2 separate regions of the Homo sapiens genome follow, and region 2 is linked to region 1. Evidence: fine-mapped QTL for protein levels in blood plasma. A gene starts in region 1. The other region holds a variant in brackets. All regions are shown on one strand. Distances are from middle to middle.

Region 1 (9,143 bases):
CAAGCACTCAAAAGATGGAAGCTATTATTACTGAGGATTGAATGGAAATTAAATTAAAATAAGTGCGGCCAGGCACGGTGGCTCACGCCTGTAACCCCAGCACTTTGGGAGACTGAGGTGGGCAGATCACGAAGTCAAGAGATCGAGACCATCCTGGCTAACATGGTAAAACCCTGTCTCTACTAAAAATTAGCTGGGCATGGTGGCATGCGCCTATAGTCCCAGCTACTCGGGAGGCTGAGGCAGGGGAATCACTTGAACCCAGGAGGCAGAGGTTGCAGTGAACCGAGATGGCTCCATTGCACTCCAGCCTGGCGACAGAGCAAGACTCTGTCTCAAAAAAAAAAAAAAGTGCTCAGAACAATGCCCAGGCCCATAGTAAACACTAAACTTTACTGAAAATGTACGAATTGTAAATGAAGTTCTAAAGCAAAACAATTTTTTTATCTTCATGTAGAGGATACGATAGTATTTTGGGGAAAAAAATTCATCACTAGTTATGTCATTTTGGGTAAGTCACTGAAACCTCTGAATTTCTGTTTCTTCTCTGCAAAATGTGAGTGGCAGTGGATTAGATGATCACCATTGTTTCTTCCCGTTTTAAGGAGTCTGGAATTCTAAAGAATACCAGAACTTATATACACTAAAAATGTATCATATATACCATATAAAACTCTAGTTATAAACTAAGAAATAAGCAGTCACTAATAATGTAAGTTGATCAAAAACTTAAAAATCACTATAGGCCTACAGTATAAGACACCATAAACATAAAAATCTTTTAATTATTAAGGATGGATTAAATAATAAGCAACTATTAGATACAGAATTAAAGACAAAACAAAGATATTTTCATTTTTTATATAATTTCCTTTTCACATTCAGAGCAAGCAATTATTTTGAGCTTCTTATTCCATAAGAATGGCATATAGCGAGCTTAAGTAATCCCAGATTCCAAATTTGAGGAATCCAAATTGATGCTCTTTTACATTCAGGAGTCAGCAAACTTTTCTGCAAAGAGCCAGATAGTAAATATTTTAGGCTTACTCAACCCTTCCCTCGCAGCTCAAGAGCAAAGAATGCGTACATGAATGGCTGTGGCTGCATTCCAATAAACTTTATTTATGGACACAAATTTGAATTTCATACCATTTTCAAGTGTCAAGAAATTTTAATATTCTTTCTAATTTTTTTAATTTACCACTTAAAAATATAAAAACTATTCTTAGCTTGTAGAGTGCAAAAAAACAAGCAGTGTGCAGCAATTAGCCCAAGGGCCGTAGTTTGGCAACCCTGCCGTAATTACATATTTTGGGAAATAAAGTAGTAATGTAAGAAATCCGGAATTGGCAGAATGCCGTTATGGGATTTTCACGGGTTGGTTTGTTGATGTTTGTTTTGCTGCACTGTTTTCACCTGCCACTCCTCTAAGAGCGGCCACTACAAACCACCCACCCTTTCTCGCTCCCTGTGGCAAGGGTCCTGGGTTTAACATAGCCAGGTCCTGGGTTTAACATAGCCAGGTCCTGGGTTTAACATAGCCAGGTCCTGGGTTTAACATAGCCAGGTCCTGGGTTTAACATAGCCAGGTCCTGGGTTTAACATAGCCAAGGTAAGCCTGACACCTTGTGGTTGCATTGCGAACGGCAGGAGCTACCTTGGAAGTTAGCAGCACTGCACATCTGGGGAAGGGGAAATCCAGGAGGGAGCGGGGACTGCGGGGCCAGTCAATGAACCAGTCAGCAGGTGGTGGTGGTGGTGGTGGCGGCGGCGGCGGTGGTGGGTGGTGGGGGTGGTGGGGGTGGTGGTGATGTTGTTGTTGAAATGAGGAAGGATAAAGTCCAGAACTCACTATCTGACTTCTCTCTCCAAAGAGAACTTCCAAAATGCTACCTATGGGGGCACTTCATCCTATTAAAAAAATGAAGCAGCAGTGGCCAGGCTCGGTGGCTCACGCCTGTAATCCCAGTACTTTGGGAGGCCAAGGTGGGAGAATCACCTGACGTCAGGAGTTCAAGACCAGCCTGACCAACATGGTGAAACCCTGTCTCTACTAAAAAAAAAAAAAAACATCAGCCGGGCATGGTGGCAGGAGCCTGTAATCCCAGCTGCTTGGGAGGCTGAGGCAAGAGAATCACTTGAACCCTGGAGGCGGTTTCAGTGAGCTGAGATCTCGCCATTGCACTCCAGCCTGGGTAACAAGAGCGAAACGCCATCTCAAAAAATTAAAAACTAAAATAAAAATGAAGCAGCAACTTCCAGAGCCTTCACAACCAAAGGCTCCATGGACACTCAAGACTTTCCTTGGTTCAGTTAAATCTCCCACTTCTAGCCCTTAGCATTCGGGCGGGAGAAAGGGAAACTGGGCACGCTCCTCACTCCCACTCCTCCCAGATGCTTACACTCGAGAAAGAAGGAAAACCCACAGGACCTAACTGCTACTGAAAATCAGGAGTTAGCTGGCACAGTAGCTCACACCTATAATCCCAGCACTTTGGGAGGTTGAGGCAGGCGGATCACCTGAGGTCAGGAGTTGGAGACCAGCCTGGCCAAAATGGTGAAACCCCATCTCTACTGAAAGTACAAAAGTTAGCCAGGTGTGGTGGTGCCTGCCTGCAGTCTCAGCTACTTGGGAGGCTGAGGCAGGAGAATCTCTTGAACCTGAGAGGGAGAAGTTGCTGTAAGCCAAGATCGCACCATTGCACTCCAGCCTGGGTGACAAAGTGAGACTGTGTCTCAAAAAGAGAAAATCAGGAGTTGTACTCTGGGAAACAGCAAATAAGGGGCTTCAAGGAGGTAAAAACCAGTCATTGAACTGTTACAATAGCCCTGAGGCAACACAGAGTTGTATTCATTGCTTGCCCAGGTCAGACTGTCCCAAGCACTGTACAGGATGTCCCAAGCACTGTACACTGTGCTAGGACGAAGTGTTTTGCTTGTTTTGAGAAAAGGGTTGAAGAGACCATTCTTTCCATTGTCCTTCCTCTAGAAGTGTTTCCCCAAAACATTCTAGACTCGTTATTCCTATCCTATAAATTATGCAGGAAAGGAGGTTCTGCACCATGCTAGGTTGGGAAGTTCATCCTTTCATCTAATTCACAGCTGTCCCTCTGTGTTTCTGAGAAAGCAAAGAGAGGGGGGATACTTAGAGGGAATTTGGCAGCACTTTCCCCTGGGCAAGAGCCTCCTCTTTGGAGGTAACAAGCCCTGAGAGTCTCAGATGCATGCTGAACCACCACACTGCAGGAAGGGGTCAGATGGGCTGAAAAGAATCAGCGATGACCTCGACTGTCAACATCCCCAGCATAAGCACAGAGCTGGGTACCTGGGGGCAGGTGAATTGGCAAAGGATTTAAAGGCCCTGATCCCAGCGGTTCCTAATGCATCACCCACATTGACAACTCAGAGAAAGGCACAGTTGGTGGATGAGTCTAGAGTTTGTAGGTAGAGAACAGGGCCCTCCACCCAATCCAGACCTGTGTCATTGAGACTGGGATGGGATGCAGTTTTGTGGTCTTGAGACCATGTCATCCCTCTCTTCCTGAATACTACCCCCTTCCCTAGGGGGCAGTGGTGACATGGGACAGAATAAATTCACCTCATACACATTTGTTCCTGGGGCTGTGGCAACGCAGTGAAAGGGCCTGCCACCTTACTTGAAGTCCCGGGCAACTAGCAGTATCCAGAAGAGAAGACCTTTTTCAGGGACTGGAGGTCTGTTTCCCTCTTGGGGAAATGCTAACTTCCAACCTCAGTGCTGGTAACTTACCACTGTGCTGGCCTCTGCCCCACCTGCCCTCTAACAGGACAGTGAGAGTCCCTCTTAGGGTTAACCAGGTGGGTTGTTTTTTGTTTTGTTTTTGTTTTCCCCATCTTCAGTTTGGAGTGAAAGTTAGGAAGGCTGTGCAGTAGTGATGAGAGGAGGGCATGATTTTAGCATGACCTTTTCCTCCTCTCCCTTTATGCTTTACAATGAAAAGCTCAGGAACCTTCTCCCCACACAGTCGGATCTCCGGAGGCATCTGCAGGGATCCCAACAGTGTCGGGCTCTGCAGTCGGACTCTGCAGGGATCCGAACAGGGTCGCTGAGACCAGTGCACGAGCCTCTTCGGAAGATGCATCCTGGACTCTTGGCCGCAGAGGAGAAAGCGGTTGGGGTCTCCCAGGGACTCTTTCTAAAGGGTCAGTCCAGCATGGTAGGGGTTAACGTGGGTCCACGCGTAGAGGGAAAGGAAAGAAGTTGTAGTTGACACTTCAGGGGGGCGGGTGGCGGACGGGTCTCGCTGCCTGATTGGTTTTGCATTTCATCCCAATTTTTTTTTCTCCACTCTCTCTCCCTCTTTTCAGTTTCTCTCTCTGATCCCAGGGGAGGGGAAACGGGAATAGTGAGAGATCAAAAATAAACCTCTTATGTCAAGCCGGGAAGGAAGTATAAATAAGAAGGGCTCGGCAGCCCACTCGGTGCTTCCCGGGGTGGGGAGGAGGCAGGAGGCGGCTGCGCGGGGCTGGCGCGGGCAGGGGCGGAGGACGGGCGCACGCGGGCCGGGGCCAGCTGCTCGCGCTCGGCTCGGGGGCGGCGGCGCGGGAGGAGCGGGCTGCGCCAGCCAGAGGGGCCGCCGGGGGAGCGCTCCCGCCGCCGGGCCCCGCGGGCCGAGTCGGCCTTGCACCCGATTGATTCCGCTTTTCCTGGAGAGAGCGGCCGGGCCGCGCTCGGGCCGCCAGCACCTGCCCGCGCCTGGCGGGCTTCTTCCCTCTCCTGCGCGCAGCCACCGCCGCAGCCCCCATGCTCCCCGCCCCCGCCGCCCCCCGGTGGCCTCCGCTCCTGCTGCTGCTGCTGCTGCTGCTGCCGCTGGCCCGCGGCGCCCCGGCCCGGCCCGCAGCCGGGGGGCAGGCCTCGGAGCTGGTGGTGCCCACGCGGTTGCCCGGCAGCGCGGGCGAGCTCGCGCTCCACCTGTCCGCCTTCGGCAAGGGCTTCGTGCTGCGCCTGGCGCCCGACGACAGCTTCCTAGCGCCCGAGTTCAAGATCGAGCGCCTCGGGGGCTCCGGCCGGGCGACCGGGGGCGAGCGGGGGCTGCGCGGCTGCTTCTTCTCCGGCACCGTGAATGGGGAGCCCGAGTCGCTGGCGGCGGTCAGCCTGTGCCGCGGGCTGAGCGGCTCCTTCCTGCTGGACGGCGAGGAGTTCACCATCCAGCCGCAGGGCGCGGGGGGCTCCCTGGCTCAGCCGCACCGCCTGCAGCGCTGGGGTCCCGCCGGAGCCCGCCCCCTCCCGCGAGGACCCGAGTGGGAGGTGGAGACGGGAGAGGGTCAGAGGCAGGAGAGAGGAGACCACCAGGAGGACAGCGAGGAGGAGAGCCAAGAAGAGGAGGCAGAAGGCGCTAGCGAGCCGCCACCGCCCCTGGGGGCCACGAGTAGGACCAAGCGGTTTGTGTCTGAGGCGCGCTTCGTGGAGACGCTGCTGGTGGCCGATGCGTCCATGGCTGCCTTCTACGGGGCCGACCTGCAGGTAGGACTGAGAGCCTCCTCCAGCCGCCGTGCCCGGAGGCCCCCCAGACGCCTCCCAGCGTCTCTAAAATCTCCCCTTCCAATCCCTCTGAGAAAAAAAAAAAAAAAAAAAAAAAGCCCTCCCCACTCATCTTCTCCAGCCTTACCCCAAACGAGATTCTCTCCTGTCTGAGAAAGAGCAGTAACTCTTTTCTGAACTTCTGCCACCCTGGATCCCTGCGCCCCCACCCCCAGGTCCCTTCCAGTTTAGAGTGGGGCTGCCGACGCCCATCCCTCTCATCCGAATCTCCCGCGGCACGTGGCGCACTGACCCGAAAGTGGGTATCAACGCATTCCCCGGCACCTGCCTCTCCCAGCAGAGATGAAAATTGAGCGTTTACGAATAGCTCCCACTCCCACCCCTCAGCCCTCTACTGCCTCCAGATCTGAGAGGCTCCCAGGGAAAGGCAGATGGGATGGAGAGAGATGGCTGTCTGATTCCCTTGGGTATGGAGGTCGCCATAAGCAAAAGACATTGTTTGAAAGGAGCTGAACCTGGAGAGGGGCTGCCCAACTTCTGTGCAGCCAGCTGGTTGTGATCAATGGGGCATGGACTACCTTGCCAACCTGGCGCTCAGCCCCGGCAGAACTTGGCAATGCCAGCAGCCAGCACAAGAGGGAGGGGCAGAGAACTTCTGCCTGGGGGCTCAGCCCAGGAGCTGAAGCTTTGGTGGAAACGCGAGGGGCGCAGGGGCTGGAACGAGCTCTTTGGGTGAATGTCTCTAGTAAAGCCAGACCCACACTTGGTCCACCCAGCTGCCCTTAGCCCAGACACAGCTCTTACCTAAACAGGGGAGAAAAACAGAGTCCAGGGGATGGCTACCTAACCAGACCATTTCTAACTAGATGCAAAGATGGTGCTGACTCAGCAGGAGGTGTCTGTGTTGCCCTAAACCCCAATTTCTCCCCTAAAGACCAGGTGAAGGCTTTTCCAGGAGGAAAAGAGGGTAAGGCTTCCAGAAGAGGGGTGCTCTTTGCCCCTAGGGAGCACAGAACCAGAGATGTGCCAGGGAAGGAAGAACTGACCTGCCCAGACGTCATAGTTCCCTGAAACAGGGATCCTGGCAATGCAGCAGCTAAGCTGACACTTTGTGGTGATGGCATCCTTGGCCGGGACCCAATACTAGGCTCAGTCTGTGCCCGACTGCTGGGGGCCCCAAGGGCATAGGCATTGCCTGTGCAGAATAGTCCAGACAAGGAGGCGATCAGCCTTCTGTTTCTCACCCCATCTTTCCCACCCTCTATCACTGGGAAAGGCAGGGTAGGAAAGACCCAGGGAGAAACAGATGATTAGGATGGGAACTGCTGTGGGTGAGAGTCCACGTGGCTGCCCCTCTGGCTACTGCAGGTGCTGACTACACCCCAGGGACGCACCCCTGCAAGCCCTTGTGGTATTTGCTTCCCCAAAAGCAGGGCAGAGCAGCTTTGGGTCACGCTGATTTAACACCTGTTTCCCTGCCTGTCCTGAGAGCACGGAGCGGTGGGAGCACCAGCCCTCTCCTCTGACTCCTTTCTTTAAGCAAGTACTAGAGAGTGTGGCAGGAGAGGGGTGAGAAGAGGGCTTCTCCCATCTCTTTAGGACCCCCACACCTGGCTCCTAGGGGGCTCCACCAGAAAGAAGCTAAGATGGCCGGGCACGGTGGCTCAAGCCTGTAATCCCAGCACTTTAGGAGGCCGAGGTGGGCAGATCGCAAGCTCAGGAGATCAAGACCATCCTGGCTAACACGGTGAAACCCCGTCTCTACTAAAAATACAAAAAAAATAGCCAGGCGTGGTGGTGGGCGCCTGTAGTCCCAGCTACTCGGGAGGCTGAGGCAGGAGAATGGTGTCAACTCAGGAGGCAGAGCTTGCAGTGAGCGGAGACCGCGCCACTGCACTCCAGCCTGGGTGACAGAGCAAGACTCCATCTTAAAAAAAAAAAAAAAGAAAAAAGAAAAACACAAAAAAAGTAAGAAGCTAAGATGCACCCATTGCAAACCCAGAGCGGGGTGCTACACCCCTCTACCCCCACACATGGAACAGATTCTGACATCTACCTAAGAACCAAAACATAGGAAAGCCAAGAGAACTCCGTGCCAGCAGAGAAAGTCCATTTTTCAGCCTTCAGGGCCAGACTGTCTCACTCTCTCAGCTGATCACCTGGACGCTGGAGATAACTGAGTATTTGCCTCAGGGACATACTCGCATCTCCAGACATCCTAGCTATCTAGAGGCAGACATGCTCTGAGGCCCGACCCCAGGATGCCCGGGCTGCTGAAGCAGGAGACTCTGCTTGGGTTTGCACCCGATTTTGTTCCCTTCAGCTTAAAGTTCAGGTCTGCTGCCCCAGACAATTCGGCTTTCTCTGTGTCAGAGACACCCAGGCATTGCCATCCTCATGAGACTCCTGACCGGGCGATGTGGCTCCTGCTTGCCCCGCTCCCCATCCCCCACAAACACGCATTTCTGGACCTTTCCCAGCTGCACATTGGCACCTGCACACCCAGCCAGCCCACCTGGACCAGGAGAGCGCAGCAAAACAGGCATCGGGCACCTCTGAAGGCTGAGTTCCTCTCCCTAGGGGGTTGACTTCTGAGTCTCACCTGGAAGAAAAGTCTTCCCTCAGGGAGACTAGCCCCGCCACCTCCACCCTGGGTCTCATGTCCCATCCCACCTGTGCTCCTGCTGCCACCGTGGCGGGTGGGGGAGGGACTGAGGTACAGCTGTGTCCAGGACCACCCTCGGGCCCCTGTGCTATGATGAGCTGACCAGCCTTGGAGATGCTGCAGGACAGGCGTGACTGTCTCAGCTCAGTCCCCTGCGCTTCCGAAAACAGATCCATGAGCCCAGCTGAGAGAAGAATGAAAATCAAGTTCCCGTGCCTCAAGACCTTGGCTGCCCACACCCACCTCCTGCAAATGGAAGCCAGTCCTTTATGTGGAGACCTCATTCACACAGAGGGAAGGCACTCTGGGGTGATTACTCTTGGTAATCAGGGGTGTGGAGGATGAGAAGAGCCTTTACCTCTCTAGGGCTTAGAGTTCCTCATCTGTGAAGCAGGACACCTGGACTAGGTGATCAATCCCGGTCTGAGCACCTGTGTGGCTGCTTCATGATGAGCCAGTCTTCTGGAAGGTTTAGCCACTCTCTGAGCGTGTTCAATTCACAGCGTGGTTTTACACACATCACCTCCATGAAAATACCAGTGAGGGGGGCAGAGGGAGACTGCACAGCTCACAGAGGACATGTGGCTTCCTCAGGATCAGACAGCACCGATCAGGATCAGTAAGTGGCAGGGCTGGGCCTGCAGACCAAGTCTCCCAAAGCTGAATCCTGTGCACTGTTATCCCACCAGGCGGCCTCTTTCTCAGGACTAGGGTCTGTGGCTCTGTCGACCCTCTGATACTTGCTTATGTTGTGGGAGTGGGTCTTTAAATCCAGCAGTTCAAAGCCATCCAGGCCCACTGTGAGGCCCTATCCTGCAAAGAAACCGCCGTGGAGGCTGAGAGAAAGAACGCACCACTGCCAAAGCTGGTCTCACTATGTTACGCGACAATGAAGTTTTCCAGAGCTCTGTCAATTGAGTTCATTTAATCCCATGAGAAAAGGGGCCCCTGTCTCCC
Region 2 (8,928 bases), 22 kb after region 1:
GCTCTCAGGGACCCGGGACAGCTCTCATAGTGTTCAGAGAGCCTGGCAAAGTCAAGGAGAGAAATTACGCTCATCTTCCAAGATGTGGAGAGGAGGACATCACTCCCAACCAAACTTATTGGGGAGGAGCCTCTGCAGAGGGGCTGGTGTCTAGGAAACTAATCCTCCTGGAGGCATAGGAACCCTCATCTGTGTGCAGAATGGAAGCATTTTCCAAAGCAAGTGTCAGAGCCAAACCTCCAAGGTCTTTCTAGCCAAAATTCAGCCCAGGGCAGAGGGAGGATTTCTGAATCTGATTCCTGTTCACATTCCTTCTGAGAAGAGTTGCCCATCTTCCCTTGGGAACATGGCAACTGTTTGACAGAATCTTCCCAGGAAGGAATACTACCTCTCCCTCCCCTTGGCATATTCCTATCCCCAGTACCTGCTGGAAACCATGAACATTAACTTAGAGGCAGTAAAGGGGCAGCAGCAAACTCGTGAGAGGGAAATCATTACAAGGTTTTTCCCCACCATCCCATCCAACTGCCCAGTGTGCAGCTCCAGGAAGGATTGGCAGGCAAGAAAAATCAGGCAGAGCCTTAGGAGAGATTCAACCACGGGAAAAGACACTGGCATTGGGTTGATGTCTCAGGAGAATCTGTAGGCTTTGCGGTTTCACAAGACAAGAAGGATCCACAATGGTTTGAGGCTCTAGAAACTTTGCCCTGGAATTGTATGAGAGTTTGCCTGGCATACAGGGTGAGACGTTGCTGGGAAAGGGGGAGGATGAGAATGAATATAGGGTGCAAGGTAGGTGTGGACGAAAAGTGATGCCATGATGTCAGATGCACCAAAGTCTGCCATTACTGTCGAGTATTTTTTAGTATTTTTTGTGTGTCTAGAACTATAAAAATGTATGAAAATGTAAAAGGCATGGTCTCTGTCCCTAAGGAGCTTGTAGTCCAATTAGAGACCCAAATCCCTTTAACACAGCCATTACATTTCAATGGATGAGTCACAGACCCTAGGTTGGTGAGGCGCTCGGAGAAAGGAAAGGCTGGGTGAGCGGAAGCTTTGAAAGGAGTTAGGACTGAGCAGAGTCTGGAGGACTGAGATGGGTGAGGTGTGAGGGGACCTGCCAGGGTGGTGGAAAGGTGTGAGAAGGGCCCTCATTCACTTAGGTGGAATCAAGCAAAGCACACCACTATGTCAAGGCCAGACCACAGAGGTCCTTGAAGGCTGACACAGTATCTGGGAGTTATCTGTGCCACCTGTCCCATTAAGTCACCTGGAAGCTCCTGCAGACACAGCCCAGACCCCCTCAGCTGCACTGACTCAGAGTCTCAGGCGTGGAGTATGGCATCTGCCTTGGCAAAGTCTCCCCAGGCATTCAGATGCACAGTTTGGGCAGGGAACCTTGGCAGGAAGAACAGCTTTAATTTTAGGATTTGGGGGTGGAAAGCAACCCACATCTAACTTCAGATGGGTTGGTCTGGCAGCAGCACGTGGCAGGATGGAGAGGAGGCAGGCACAGGTCCCCATGAAGCCAGCAGGCCTGGGCTTGTGGTGGTGAGAGTGGGATGCCATCGTTTTAAATCACAGATTGTCCTGAATATAGTGTGGGTCTTTGTGACAGTTTGGAAATAGCAGATAGAGATGCTCAAATGTTCGGGAGATACCAGGATACCAGTCTCAGACTTGGGCATGGTAAGATCAGCAAATGAAAGTCAAGACAGTTCGTGGAAGGACCATCGGGAGCTTGGCCATGCTGAGTTGGAGGTAATCACAGTACATACAAACGGAGCTCCCCAGGGACACCCAGAATTACGGAATGTGGGTGTAGGGGCAAGATCAGAGCTAGACATGTAGATTTAGGAGTCTTTGGATTCATGTCCGGTGTCACTGAGGAAATCGATACTGCACAATTAGTAGTGTCCTGAGAATATAGCTCCACATGCCATTCTGTGCCTTCCAAGCTTACTGAATTGTTCCCTGTTGCTCCCTGCGTTTATTCACCTGTAGAGTACAATGAGTCTCTTTCCCTAATGGAAAGGGCATTTATCCTAGAAAGCCCAGCATGCGGCTGGAGGCTCCTTTCCTTGCCCTTTTGAGTAAGGGTCACACATGCGTCTAGGAATGTTGTGCCCAGAAGACACTGGCCCTGGGCGCCTGGGTTGAGTTCAAAACCAAAAGAAAGAAGAAAAGTGCTGTAAATTCGGGATTTCTCCACCGGATGCTCCTGCTTCCGCATGGGTGTCACCTCCATGCCGTTTCTTCCTCTTTCTAGGGAAAAGCTTCAGGGAGCAGCAGTGTGAGAAGTATAATGCCTACAATTACACTGACATGGAC[G/A]GGAATCTCCTGCAGTGGGTCCCCAAGTATGCTGGGGTGTCCCCCCGGGACCGCTGCAAGTTGTTCTGCCGAGCCCGGGGGAGGAGCGAGTTCAAAGTGTTCGAGGCCAAGGTGAGAATCACCCTGGGACTCAGATCCAGAGATGGGGAGGAAGGTCGCCTGTCCCCACACCCCCGCCCCCCGGCAGGCTGCTTCTGTGCTCAACACGCCCTCCCTCACCTTCCCTTTCCCCGTTGCAGGTGATTGATGGCACCCTGTGTGGGCCAGAAACACTGGCCATCTGTGTCCGTGGCCAGTGTGTCAAGGCCGGCTGTGACCATGTGGTGGACTCGCCTCGGAAGCTGGACAAATGCGGGGTGTGTGGGGGCAAAGGCAACTCCTGCAGGAAGGTCTCCGGGTCCCTCACCCCCACCAAGTGAGTCTCCCCAGAAGTTCTGTACCTTGCTTGGTAGAAGAGCATAATGGGCTTTGCACTCTGCTAGGCCCAAATTGAACTGTGGCTGCTACTTAATAGCTGTGAGGGTTGGGCAAGTTATTTAAACTCTCCGAGCTTCAGTTTCTTTGTAAAATGTCAGCAGTATCTCTATCTCAGAGTCGTTGTAAGGATTTCCTGAGATGGGATGTGCACTTGGCAGTGTCGAGCTCATAGAAAAGATAGAACACAGGGCAGCCGTGACTTTTACGAGGGCTGGAGGCCATGTGGATAGGGAGCTGTCATCTCTGAGTCAATCGAGCCACACTGAGTAACCTGGACCTCTGCCAGAAAACAGCTCTCCCAGGCCTGTTTTGGGAAGGACGTCTCACCCTAAGCCTGGCAAGCCCCTGTCCTTTCTGCAGATGGATCTTCAGAGAAGGGGGTTACCAAAAAGGGGCCCTGGCAGCCTCAGGGCTTTCATGAATCTGAGAACTCCAGACACTTTTTTCTCATCCTAATGCCCCACATTCATAAAACTCCAAGGATTTTCCAAAGCGCTTTCATTTCCATGGTCTCATTTGATTTGTAAAATAAGTCCATGAGGTGAGCAAGGCCAATACTATTCCTCATTTTGCAGAGGAAGAAATTAAGGCACAGAAAGATTAAATGACTTTTCTAAGGTCACATTGATGGTTAATGACAGCCAGAAGAGAACCTAGTTTTCCTAAGTCCTGGATGACTTTTGTCTCCCATTCCATGTACTTCCTGCAGAGTAAGGGCAAGTTCGGGTGTTTTATATGGGCCACACTCTGCCTGTCTGCCTCCAGTACATCAATGTGTCCTAGGGCTTATGTGAGCATCCACCTGTCCAGCCACTTCCCCCACTCACGGTCTCAGAGTTTTTGAGAAGTGTTCACTGTATTGTATTCTACCTAGTGAAGCTCGCAAACCCTGCCCCATTCTGTGTGTGTGTGTGTGTCTGTCTGTCTGTCTGTCTGTCTCTACATCTCTCATCTCACCAGTCTGAGAGAACAGAATCAGCCTACAGCAGGCAACTTGGGACTGTTTTCATTTTTTTTAATTTATTTTTATTATTTTGAGACAGAGTCTCACTCTGTTGCCTAGGCTGGAGTGCGGTGGCACGATCTTGGCTCACTGCAACCTGCTTCCCAGGTTCAAGCAATTCTCCTGCCTCAGCTTCCCAGGTAGCTGGGATTACAGGCATGCACCACCACACCCAGCTAATTTTTGTATTTTTAGTAGAGACTGGGTTTCGTCATGTTGGCCAGGCTGGTCTTGAACTCCTGGCATCAAGTGATCCGCCCGCCTTGGCCTCCCAAAGTGCTGGGATTGTGGGTATGAGCCACTGCGCCCTGCCTTGGAACTCTTTTTACATTTAAGCTCAAAAGACATAGAAAAAGAGAAGCAGACACTATTCAGATACTGGGTCCCTTGGCCACTTTCCCTCAGGCTTTAGACAGATGGGCCTGTGGACACTCTAAGAGTCTGAAACTAAGCAGCTAGCCCCAGCTGGACATATGGTAAGAAAAGCAAAAAGCCCGCCTGACCACTCGCCTCACTTTCTCCCCAGCCTATGGAACCCAGATTTCCAGAAAAGAACAAACAACTAATCTTTCTTCATCCTACCTAAAGCCCTAAGCCTATAATGGACTGGAAACAGTTTCCCAAAACTGCTTCCTATCATTCCAGAAGCACAGTGCTCATGGTGCCTGGGCACTCCCAGAAGGTGGCTTCAAAGAAGCAGGCTTAAACCCCCAACTCCCAACCCCACCCTGATCCCACCCTAGGGCCATATTCATCAAATACTAGGAGCCGACTGACTCAGAGAGGTGGTGTGAAATTTCCCTCCTGTTCACGTTCTGGAAGGGGTGTGTGGAACAGTTTTTTCCATGTGGGTTTGAGCTCTGGGTATGGAGGTGGCCAATCAAAGTTGTATACCAGTGCAAGGAGCTAGAGGTATTTGAGATCACATTTGACAGGTGCCAGGTTTGGCTACACCAGTGCAGCTTTCCACATCCTTCTGGGTTCTCCTCGTCTCTATGCTGTTCTCAACACCCACATACCTCAACTCCTCAACCACACTTTTGAAATAGAGTTGCCAGATGAAGCAAACACCCTTGAAAATCCCAATGTACAGACATTTCTGTCTGCCTAAACAGCTAATTTATTGAGAACTTTGAGGCAACTTGCTTAATTACTTGCTTTGTTTTTTTCGTGTCTGCCACCTGGGGTGCCCACTTCAGTCTCCAAGGCATCATCGTGACCTGGGCTGGGCAGCCACTGGTCTAAGGGTGTCCTTCTGTTTCTATCACAGTTATGGCTACAATGACATTGTCACCATCCCAGCTGGTGCCACTAATATTGACGTGAAGCAGCGGAGCCACCCGGGTGTGCAGAACGATGGGAACTACCTGGCGCTGAAGACGGCTGATGGGCAGTACCTGCTCAACGGCAACCTGGCCATCTCTGCCATAGAGCAGGACATCTTGGTGAAGGGGACCATCCTGAAGTACAGCGGCTCCATCGCCACCCTGGAGCGCCTGCAGAGCTTCCGGCCCTTGCCAGAGCCTCTGACAGTGCAGCTCCTGACAGTCCCTGGCGAGGTCTTCCCCCCAAAAGTCAAATACACCTTCTTTGTTCCTAATGACGTGGACTTTAGCATGCAGAGCAGCAAAGAGAGAGCAACCACCAACATCATCCAGCCGCTGCTCCACGCACAGTGGGTGCTGGGGGACTGGTCTGAGTGCTCTAGCACCTGCGGGGCCGGCTGGCAGAGGCGAACTGTAGAGTGCAGGGACCCCTCCGGCCAGGCCTCTGCCACCTGCAACAAGGCTCTGAAACCCGAGGATGCCAAGCCCTGCGAAAGCCAGCTGTGCCCCCTGTGATTCAGGGGGGCAGGGGCCAGTCTTGTGCTCCTGGACATGCGGTACTGAGGTGCAGACAAGGGTCTCCACTGTGGTGACTGGGTCCCTTGGCCATATCAAGGCAGCACGGCCCACCCAGGCCTCCCATTGCCGCAACCCCTCCAGTACTGCACAAATTCCTAAGGGGGAAGAGGAGAGGGTATGGGGCGGCAGACCCTATCATCAACTGTCCAGTGGACTGGACCTTGCTCGGGTTCAAGTAGAGGGCATAGGTTAAAAGGTAAAAGTGCACTTATTGACTCAGACAGGACACTCAGCGTCAGTCTGTTTGCAAAGGACTAGCAAACTTAAATGAAAAAAAAAATTCTATCTGGTTTCCCCGATAAATAATCTACCTCACAGGGGAAAAAATTAGTACAAGAGAGGCGTGGGGCAGGGAGTCAATGGTGAATGTCAAAGCAGGCTCCAAAGCTGGACCCCAAGCTGTCTTCAAGAATGACCACGACTGTCTTCAGTGTTAAAATCCATCACCTAAAGGGCCGCAGCGTCGCAGGGTTTGGAGAGCCACATGTTCTCAGGCTGCCACCTGCAGGGGTGGATCCATTTCAAGTATTTATGCAAATGTGTCTCTGAACTAAAGTGTGATCTTATGCCAATGCAGTGGTCTGGTCTGATTCATTGTTTCTTTGGAAAGGGCAGCAACCTAGAACCCAGGGATGGAGGCTGAAACTAGGTCAGCAGCTGGATCCCTGCCTGCTCTGGGTCCTCACAGGCCTGCAGAATCCAGCTCATTCGGGCAACTTTCATTTGCAGGATCTAGACCAGTGGTTCCCAAGGTTTCATTAGGATCACGTAGAGGGCTGTGAAAATGGATTGTGAGGCTGGGCACAGTGGCTCACACCTGTCATTCCAGCACTTTGGGAGGCTGAGGCAGGAGGATTGCCTGAGCCCAGGAGTTCAAGACCAGCCATGACAATATGGCGAGACCCTGTTTCTATAAAAAATTAAAAAACGAAATCAGTCGGTCATGGTGGTACAGGCCTGTAGTCCCAGCTACTCAGGAGGCTGAGGTGGGAGGGTCACTTGAGCCCAGGAGGTTGAGGCTGCAGTGAGCCATTTTCATGCCACTGCACTCCAGCCTGGATGACACAGTGAGACCCTGTCTCAAAAAAAAAAAAAAAGAAAGAAAGAAAGAAAAGAAAACACAGATTGTGGGGCCCCATCCCCAGAGTTTCTGATCTAATGGTTGGGGTGGCCTGAGAATCTGCATTTCTAACAAGTTCCCAGTGACTGACATGGAGGCTGCTGGTTTGGGAGCCACACTGTGAACACCTGTGCTACAGGAAACGTCCAGCTGGGAGATCACAATTGTTATGCGATGCCTTTGGGCTCATCATTCTTGAGAAAGAATATCCCCTTCCTCTCTGTGAGCTACCCCATCATCCTCTTACATGCTGCCTGCCTCCTTTTAGTTTAGCTGGGGGCACCAGATCCTCAGCCCCTACTCCGCTCCATAGCTCCTCATCTCTCCTGTGGCTCAGAGGAACTCTGGCTCAGTCTTCCACCTGGTCTGGTGCAGAGGGAACTTACTTAGTCCCTGATCACAAATGGGTGACAAGAAACAGACATCAAGAAATGACATTCTAGCAAAAGAAGGAAAATACCCAAATGTGCATCTTGGTTTTTTTCACCACCTGTGCCCCCTTTGTCCTCCCATTCAGATATCTGGCACCATGGGCAGAGAGGATGCTGTAGGGGCACTAGGCAAGGCCATGAGATTCCAGCCCCACTGTTCCCCTTAGCTGCTCTCTACACGATGACAGCTGACTCAGAGTTGGTCACTCCTTCTTGTCTGCCTACTCTTTTCAGCGAGTGGGAGGCTGGGCTTACCTAAGCATAAACAGGCACACACACAGGCATGTTGTTGATGACTAGCAAAACCAGATTGTTTCCCTGCTGTGCACCAGTTTTGTGGAGGCTGATGTATGCTTCCGCAACTCTTCATCGCCTTCCATTTCTCGCTCTCCCCCAAATAAGGCCAAGCGTGTCCCCCTTAACGGCCTAAGCCAGGCCAGCTGTGCCATCCCTGCTGCCTGCATCATTACCAGGCACAGCTTTTGCCCTGGAGTTCAGCTGGCAGCAGAGCTGCTGATGTGCAAAGCAGAATGGAATCCAGCTTGGCTCTCCCGGTTGTGTGGGCTCGGCGAGGCTCTCAGAACGCATACTTGTTTGTGTCTGGAAATTCAACAGCTGCAGCCCAGGGACTCAGAAACCAGATCTGCAGAGGAAGACCACACCATTATCTGCCCCAGCCAACCACGACCACTCTGTGCACCCAGAGAAGGAGAGAAGACTGTATTTCCTCTGCTGAAAGATTGTGTTTTCCAGCTAGTGCTCCTAATGGAAACTGGTACTCTCTTCTAATGGGAGGCCCTGACTTGGCAGGTAATTTGGTCATTAATCTGAATCCTCCAGGCACCTGCCAGAAATACTTCGAAGGTGGTACAGTAGCATAAAGTTAATTTCCAACCTTTCATTTTTAAGATAAGTGAATCTTTATCTGGGGTTTATCCTCTGCCCTTTATTCCTCTATCACAGATCAGAGGGTTTTGTGAATTTACAAAAGTATGCAATATTACTATTCCCAGTCCACTCTAGCAGACCACCCCTCTCCCAGGAACATATTCCAGGGGTGGTAGGACCCATCTCACTAGATCCGCATCTGTTCTCTGATGACATCCACCTGCTTCTACATCCTTTGTGCTTGAACTTTTTAACCAAGTCACCCTCTTAGTGAGGACTCTTCCTCTTTTCTGGTGTCCAAACATGTCACCCTTCCTGTTTTCCTCTGGAGTGTGCTCCGGAGTTGTTTCAAACCACCCCTCCCTCCCCACACCCCCCAAAAAACAAAACTACAAATGACAAGAACAATTGGAAAGTTCTTAAGGGATACTGGCTTTTGCTTTGTCTTGATATTTTCCACTTGTGGTCCAGGGCAGATAAAGAGGGAGGCCTTGTCAGCCCTGCGCTATGGCGTCTGCAGCGTTGAGCAGCTGCGTGTACTGGGCTTTCCTGCGTGGTGCAGACTACCCTGCCCAGGTGCCCCTGGTCCCAGGAGGGGAGGCTCGTGAACCCCGCAGCAATCTCGACTCCGTGTGCTCTGCCCCAGATCACCAGGTCCCTCCAGGAACCTGCAGCATTTCCTTTGCTGTTTGGGAATTCAAAATGGTTTCTCGAAAAATGTGAACAGGAAGGCAGAATTTATCAAAGAGGACTAGATGTAGCACGACCCTTGGA

Alleles and levels. Positions count from the first base shown, and alleles are read on the strand shown. Strength reflects both the effect of a copy and how common the allele is.
For the plasma level of the protein whose gene starts at base 4,461 in region 1, A is the low allele of the variant in region 2 and G is the other (moderate association).

Evidence for each region. PIP is the chance, under the fine-mapping model, that this variant and not a neighbour inherited with it causes the effect. Protein levels are from antibody-based Olink assays in UK Biobank. Linkage for the fine-mapping came from a reference panel and not from the study's own genotypes, which makes the PIPs less certain.
Region 2: its variant is fine-mapped to the plasma level of the ADAMTS8 protein (UK Biobank, PIP above 0.99). The variant lies in the coding sequence of ADAMTS8. If it changes the protein, the assay may bind it differently, which can mimic a change of level.

Annotation. Positions count from the first base shown.
Region 1 is chr11:130,423,927-130,433,069 of GRCh38, reverse strand. ADAMTS8 (ADAM metallopeptidase with thrombospondin type 1 motif 8) reads left to right here and starts at 4,461. Exons shown (of 9, transcript NM_007037.6): 1 at 4,461-5,503. The coding sequence starts at 4,784.
Region 2 is chr11:130,402,282-130,411,209 of GRCh38, reverse strand. ADAMTS8 (ADAM metallopeptidase with thrombospondin type 1 motif 8) reads left to right here. Exons shown (of 9, transcript NM_007037.6): 7 at 2,270-2,442; 8 at 2,571-2,746; 9 at 5,082-6,287. The coding sequence ends at 5,652. It overlaps ZBTB44-DT (ZBTB44 divergent transcript), which reads right to left. Exons shown (of 7, transcript NR_148980.1): 7 at 7,553-7,909. Among named protein-coding and RNA genes, the nearest start is that of ADAMTS8, 22 kb to the left of the region's middle. The variant G/A (reference allele first, on the strand shown) is at 2,332.